2 linked regions of the Homo sapiens genome follow. The protein of the gene in region 1 interacts with the protein of each later gene in a pairwise test. Each region holds a gene or a part of one and is shown in the gene's direction. Other genes may lie near its edges.

What was found. Proteins that work in one complex are often made in the same cells at the same time.
Region 2: the proteins of NMNAT1 (region 1) and NEK3 interact in a two-hybrid assay, tested with the Homo sapiens proteins (one large-scale study listed by BioGRID and IntAct).

The regions. Positions count from the first base shown.
Region 1 is NC_000001.11:9,970,828-9,974,482, forward strand, and holds part of NMNAT1 (nicotinamide/nicotinic acid mononucleotide adenylyltransferase 1), read left to right. Parts: intron 1-1,190; 5' UTR 1,191-1,246; coding exon 1,247-1,361; intron 1,362-3,655.
Region 2 is NC_000013.11:52,146,084-52,149,738, reverse strand, and holds part of NEK3 (serine/threonine-protein kinase Nek3), read left to right. Parts: intron 1-1,269; coding exon 1,270-1,324; intron 1,325-3,655.

The DNA.
Region 1 (3,655 bases):
TTATGATGTTACTATCATGTTGACTAAAAGGCAAAAATGCTGTATTTGGTAGATGATAATATTGTTGTATTAATTAACTGTGGCCACAATAGTGCAATCACAAAACTTGAGTGACATATGATAATGAACACTAATTTTTTGTTTTTGAGACTAGGGTCAGCTTGTTGGCTTGACGATCTGAGCCAGGTTTGGTTGATCTCACTTGGGTTTGCTTATGTGTCTGAGCAGATGGACTGTAGTTGGCTGGTCGGGGATGGCTATGTTCCCCACATGTGGGGTGGTTGTCTATCAGTGGGAGCATCGGTGCTCTCCCACATGTTCTGGCATCCTCCACACTAACACTTGTGCCACATTCTTTTGCCCAAAGCAAGTCAAAAAATGTGGAGAAGTCACTTCCATCTCTTCATGGTAGAAGTTGCAGATTCACATTGAAAAGGAGGGATGGAGATGTGGAAACATTTTTAGAGTTAGCATAATGATTGAAGCCAATTTTTTTTTTCTTTTTGAGATGGAGTCTCTCTCTGTCGCCAGGCTGGAGTGCAGTGGCACAGTCTCGGCTCACTGCAACCTCCGCCTCCTGGGTTCAAGTGATTCTCCTGCCTCAGCCTCCCAAGTAGCTGGGATTACAGGTGCCTGTCACCACACCCAGCTAATTTTTGTATTTTTTGTAAAGACGAGGTTTTACCATGTTGGCCAGGATGGTCTTGATCTCTTGACCTCATGATCCACCCGCCCCAGCCTCCCAAAGTGCTGGGATTACATGTGTGAGCCACCACGCCCAGCCAAAGCCAAATACTTTTAATCCATCTATTGGGAATGAGAATGTGGAAGGACATCAAAAGACCTATAACTGGGCTGGGCGTGGTGACTCATGCTTGTAATCCCAGCACTTTGAGAGACTGAGGTGGAAGGGTTGCTTGAGACCAGTAGTCTGAGAGCAGCCTGGGCAACATAGCAAGACCCCCATCTCTACAAAAATTAGTCTTTAAAATAATTAGCCAGCCTATTGGTATGTGCCTGTGTTCCCAGCTACTTGAGAGGCTGAGGTGGGAGCATCACTTGAGCCCAGAAGTTTGAGGGTGCAGTCAGCTGTGGTTGCATCACTACACTCTAGCCAGGGTGGCAGAGCAAGACCTTATCTTAGGGAAAAAAAAATGCATAACTGAATTTATTTTCTTTTTCCTTTGTAGACAACAAGGGAGGTGTCACAGTTTTCCATTTAGATCAACAACTTCAAGTTCTTACCATGGAAAATTCCGAGAAGACTGAAGTGGTTCTCCTTGCTTGTGGTTCATTCAATCCCATCACCAACATGCACCTCAGGTTGTTTGAGCTGGCCAAGGACTACATGAATGGAACAGGTAGGAGCAGTAACCAAAAGTGGCTTAAGACTAGAGAACCAGCCGGGTGCAGTGGCTCACACCTGCAATCCCAGCATTTTGGGAGGCTGAGACGGGCAGATCACAAGGTCAAGAGATCGAGACCATCCTAGCCAACATGGTAAAACCCTGTCTCTACTAAAAAATACGAAAATTCACTGTGCCTGTAGTCCTAGCTACTCGGGAGGCTGAGGCAGTAGAATCGCTTGAACCCGGGAGGCGGAGGTTGCAGTGAGCTGAGATTGCTGCACTGCACTCCAGCCTGGAGACAGAGCAAGACACCATCTCAAAAAAAAAAAAAAATACTAGAGAACCGGCATGACTGGGTCTGTTTCAGAATACACATTTCATTGACTGGGCACAAACATGCTGTCCTGCTCCCTTGTACAGTGAATTCTTAGCCAAAAAAGAGGGTGAAGTATGAGGGAAGAATTGAGCATCTGGCTATGGCCTGTAGAATAGAAAATACAGCCAGGTACAGTGGCTCACACCTGTAATCCCAGTGCTTTGGGAGGCCGAGGTGGGAGGATCACTTGAGGCCAGGAGTTTGAGACCAACCTGGGAAACAGAGAGAGACCTCATCTCTACAAAAAAAATTGTAAACATTAGCCAGGTATGGTGGCATGTGCCTGTGGTCCCAGCTACTCAGGAGACTGAAGTAGGAGGATTGCTTGAGCCCGGGAGGTCTAGGCTACCGTGAGCCATGATTGCACCTTTGCCCACCAGCCTGGACATCAGAGCAAGACCCTGACCACCCCTCCCCAAAAAAAGGAATTTGATTCTGTCATGCCTGTGCTTAATCTTCTTTAGGAGTTTCCCATTACTTAAGGCAAAAAGCGAAAGCTTGTACTTTAGCATACATAAAACCTCTAGGATCAGGCACAGCTTTTTAAAAGTTTTCTTTTTTCTTTCTTTCTTTCTTTTTTTTGAGATGGACTTCACTCTTGTTGCCCAGGCTGGAGTGCAGTGGCGCGATCTCGGCTCACTGCAACCTCCACCTCCTGGGTTCAAGCAATTCTCCTGCCTCACCCTCCTGAGTAGCTGGGATTACAGGAATGTGCCACCACGCCCGGCTAATTTTTTATATTTTTAGTAGCGACGGGGTTTCTCCATGTTGGTCAGGCTGGTCTCAAACTCCCAACCTCAGGCTTCCCAAAGTGCTGGGATCACAGGCATGAGCTACCATACCCAGCTAAAAGTTTTCATAAACAATGCATGAGGCTGGGCGTGGTGGCTTACTCCTGGAATCCCAGCACTTTGGGAGGCCAAGGCAGGCAGATCACAAGGTCAGGAGATTGAGACCATCCTGGCTAACACGGTGAAACCCCATCTCTACTAAAAATACAAAAAAATTAGCCGGGCATGGTGGCGGGTGCCTGTAGTCCCAGCTACTTGGGAGGCTGAGGCAGGAGGATGGCGTGAACCTGGGAGGCGGAGCTTGCAGTGAGCCAAGATGTCGCCACTGCACTCCAGCCTGGGTGACAGAGCGAGACTCCATCTCAAAAAAAAAAAAAAAAAAAAAAAAATGCATGAATAGGCTGGGCGTGGTGGCACATACCTGTAATCCCAGCACTTCGAGAGGCAGAAGGGGCAGATTACCTGAGGTCAGGAGTTTGAGATCAGCCTGGCCAATGTGGCGAAACCTTGACTCTACAGAGTCTCGCTCTGTCGCCCAGGCTGGAGTGCAGTGGCACAGTCTTGGCTCACTGCAACCTCCACCTCCTGGATTCAAGCGATTCTTTTGCCTCAGCCTCCCCTGTAACTGGGATTACAGGCACACAGCACCATGCCCGGCCCATTTTTGTATTTTTAGTAGAAATGGGGTTTCACCATGTTGACCAGGCTGCTCTTGAACTCCTGTTCTCAAGTGATCCTCCCACGTCGGCCTCCCAAAGTGCTGGAATTACAGGCATGAGCCACCATAACATAGCATAACCATAACAGTTTCATGTGTATCCTTCCACTCTTCTTTGTATGAATTTATATGCAAACATTTGTGTGTATACACAGATTTTTTTTTTTTTTTGTGGAAATGGTTCTCACTCTGTCACCCTGGCTGGGCAGGCTGGAGTACAGTGGCATGATCACAGCTCACTGCAGCCTTTACCTCCCGGACTCAAGTGAGCTGCCTGCCTCAGGCTCCTGAGTAGCTGTGACTACAGGCATGCCACCACATCTGGCTAATTTTTTTTTTTTTTTGGAGACAGAGTCTTGCTCTGTCGCTCAGGCTGGAGTGCAGTGGCATGATCTCAGCTCACTGCAAACTCCGCCTCCCA
Region 2 (3,655 bases), on another chromosome or scaffold:
CGCCGCCACACCCAGCTAATTTTTGTATTTTTTAGTAGAGATGGGGTTTCACCATATTGGCCAGGCTGGTCTCAAACTCCTGACCTTGTGATCTGCCCGGCTCGGCCTCCCAAAGTGCTGGGATTACAGGTGTGAACCACCATGCCCGGCGGGCAACCTTTTTTCAGGAGATTCAGATAGATATAGAGGAGGGAGATTAGCACGCAAACATGGCCAATGAGAATGATTGGGGGACCTAGATAAGGGCATGTGGACATTGCAACTTTTCTGTAGATTTGAAATTTAAAAAAACTAAACGGGGAAATAGTTGGTAAAAACCATTAATTAAAATAAAAAAGAATATCATTTAGAAAAGTCTGGAGGAGCTGGGCCTGGTGGTGTGTGCTTGTAGTCCCAACTACCTGGGAGGCTGAGGCAGGAGGATTGCTTGAGCCCAGGAGTTCAAGGCAGCAGTACAGTGACATCATGCCTGTGAATAGCCACTGCACTCCAGCCTAGGCAACACAGTGAGACCCCATCCCTTAAAAAAAAGAAAAGGTGGGCTGGGCGCGGTGGCTCACACCTGTAATCCCAGCACTTTGGGAGGCTGAGGCGCGCGGATCACGAGGTCAGGAGATTGAGACCATCCTGGCTAACACGGTGAAACCCTGTCTCTACTAAAACAAATACAAAAAAAAAAATTAGCTGGGCGTGGTGGCGGGCGCCTGTAGTCCCAGCTACTCTGGAGGCTGAGGCAGGAGAATGGTGTGAATCCGGGAGGCAGAGCTTGCAGTGAGCCGAGATTGTGAGGCTGCACTACAGCCTGGGCAACAGAGCAAGACTCCATCTCAAAGAAAAGGAAGAACCCTATCCCTTAGAGCCATCCAGCAGACTGTGTGGGAAGTAGAGAGCTGCCAGCAGGAGATGTGATCAAAGGCTGGGTGCTGTGTCCAGGGTGGTCGGAATAGAAACTACACTGGATGCCTTCCAGAGTCCTTCTTCCAGCTGTGATCATCTGAGTCCGCAAATATTCCCTCTTGCTACTGAATTCCCAAATGCTACTGAAGTGATATCTCAACTGCCCCAATTTGAAGGGGGTGGGGATTGAAAAGCAGAGAGTTTTATTGTGAACACTACTCTTAGGAAGTATCTAGGTGTTAGACCAACATTATATGTTTTAATACCTAGGAATTACTTGTGATATCTATTCTTATTAAAGGTAAGAAATTATTTTTTGTACTAGAAAATACGTAACCTGCTTGTGATTACATTGCTTCTTTATGCTTTCAGTGACATCTGGTCCTTGGGTTGCATCCTGTATGAACTCTGTACCCTTAAGCATCCAGTAAGTATGGCGTGCAAAATGGAAAAGGCAGCTTGTCATATCTAGCTGAGCCCTAATAATGTGACAGATTCTAGTTGGCAGTTTGCTTCCCTAGGATGAAGTCATTATAAAAGTTTGTATATGTTTCCAGTGCAGTCATCTGCCCTGAGTTAGTTTTGTAGCATATACTAATAGGAAATTTCCATTATTCAGTTTGGCTGTGCAATACATAACCTTTCTCTCTCTTTCTTTCTCTTTTCCTCTTTTCTTTCTTTTTGCTATTCTTAATTTTTTATTTTGATAAAATAAATATAAAATTTGCCATTTTATCCATTTTTAAGTATACAATTCATTGTCATTAATTACATTCAAAATATTGTGCAACCACCACTATTATCTCTTTGGGGGTTTTTTGTTTTGTTTTGTTTTGTTTCGTTTTTGAGATGGAATCTTGCTCTGTTGCCCAGTCTGGAGTGCAGTGGTGCAATCTCAGCTCACTGCAACCTCCGCCTCCTGGGTTCAAGTGATTCTCCTGCCTCAGCCTCCCAAGTAGCTGGGACTACAGGTGCATACCACCATGCCCAGCTAAATTTTTTTTGTATTTTTACTAGAGACATTTTTTTTGTATTTTTTTGTATTTTCCCCCATGTTGAGCAGGCTGGTCTTGAACTCCTGACCTCAGGTGATCCACTCGCCTCGGCCTCCCAAAGTGCTGGGATTACAGGCATGAGCCACTATGCCCGGCCACTACTATCTCTTTGTAAAACTTTTGTCATCACCCCAACCAGAAACTCTGTACCCATTAAATAGTTGCTCCCCATTTCTTCCCTTTCCCCAGTCCCAATCTAATTTCTGCCTCATGAATTTGCATATTCTAGGTATTTCATACAACTGGAATTATAGAACTTTTGCCCTTTTGTGTCTGGTTTATTTCACTAGCACAGTGTTTTCAAGGTTCATCCATGTTGTAGCATCTATCAGGATTCCATTCCTTTTTATGGCTGCATAGTATTCCATTGTGTGTATAGACATGTTTATCCATTCATCTGTTGAGGGACACTTGGGTCGTTTCTGTCTTTTGGCTATTGTATATAATGCTGTTATGAACAAATGGTGTACAAGTATCTGTTAGAGTCCTTGATTCCAAATTTTGAGGTTTACATTTAGCAGTGGAACTGCTGGGTCATATGGTAATTGTATTTAGCTTTTTGAGGAAACAGCAAACTTTGCAAGAGTGGCCGCGTCATTTTTTTCCTCAGCTTTTTGCAGTTAGATTTCACTTATATGAGTTTCCTCTCTAACTGAAACATCATGAAAACATAGACTTTGCCCTATAATGTGTTTTTTCAAGATATTTTTAAAAATATGAACAAAAAAAGGTTAAATAACTTGTCCCGCTTGTTCAGCCATTGTTTATTATATAGAACAACAACTGCAGGGCCAATTCCTATTAGTTCTTAGCTTTGCATAGAAATAAATTCTGTTCTTTGGGCACAGGCTGAAGGTTAGCTTTTTTACAGATGTACTTGAGGGCACATAGAGCTCAGGAGAGGGTGAATGGTTGAGAAACAATCTTCACCACTACCAGATGAAAGTAGCTCAAACTGAAGACACCTGGTATTAATGAGAGGTTATCTTCCTTGAATATAAGTGGTTTATAATGATAGCTACACAGTTAGAACAACTTGGGGAACCTTTAAAATGCTGATGCCTAGGCCCACAGCACAGTGATTGAATTAAAATCTCTGAAAATGTCCTGGGCATTAATGTTTTTAAAACAGGTGATTACAATGTACAGCCCAAGTTGAGAACCACCATAGTCTACAAATAAAATTATTTTTAAAATTCCAACATCTTACAATTCTTTACTTCCTGATGTATCTTTTTCATAATTTACATGTATACGTTCTTCTTTTTTCCAGCAAGAATGAGTATTAAGGACTATAGTGCCCTGAATATTTGGCATGAGATCTGTCATCCCTTGTCTGCTCGAAGACAAAAGTTGTTCTCAAACCTTTAGGAAACACAGATAGTTGGTGTAATGGTTAAAAAGCCAGAGGCAAAGCAGATTCAGTAGTATTTGTCATTATCACAATCTGTCCTTTGTTATGTGTTGATTTTTCTTTTTCATATATTCACTTACATTTTATATTCATAGGACAATACACTTTTTAAAAAATAAACTTCTTTTAAATTTTAAAACAGTTTTAGATTTACAGAAAAATTACAAAGATAATACAAAAAGCTTCTATATACCCCACACTGTAATTAACATCTATCATAGCCTTGAGGTGTAGAATCATTTCTTAAGCAAGATTCGACAAGCAGAAATTATTAAGGAAAAATGATGAA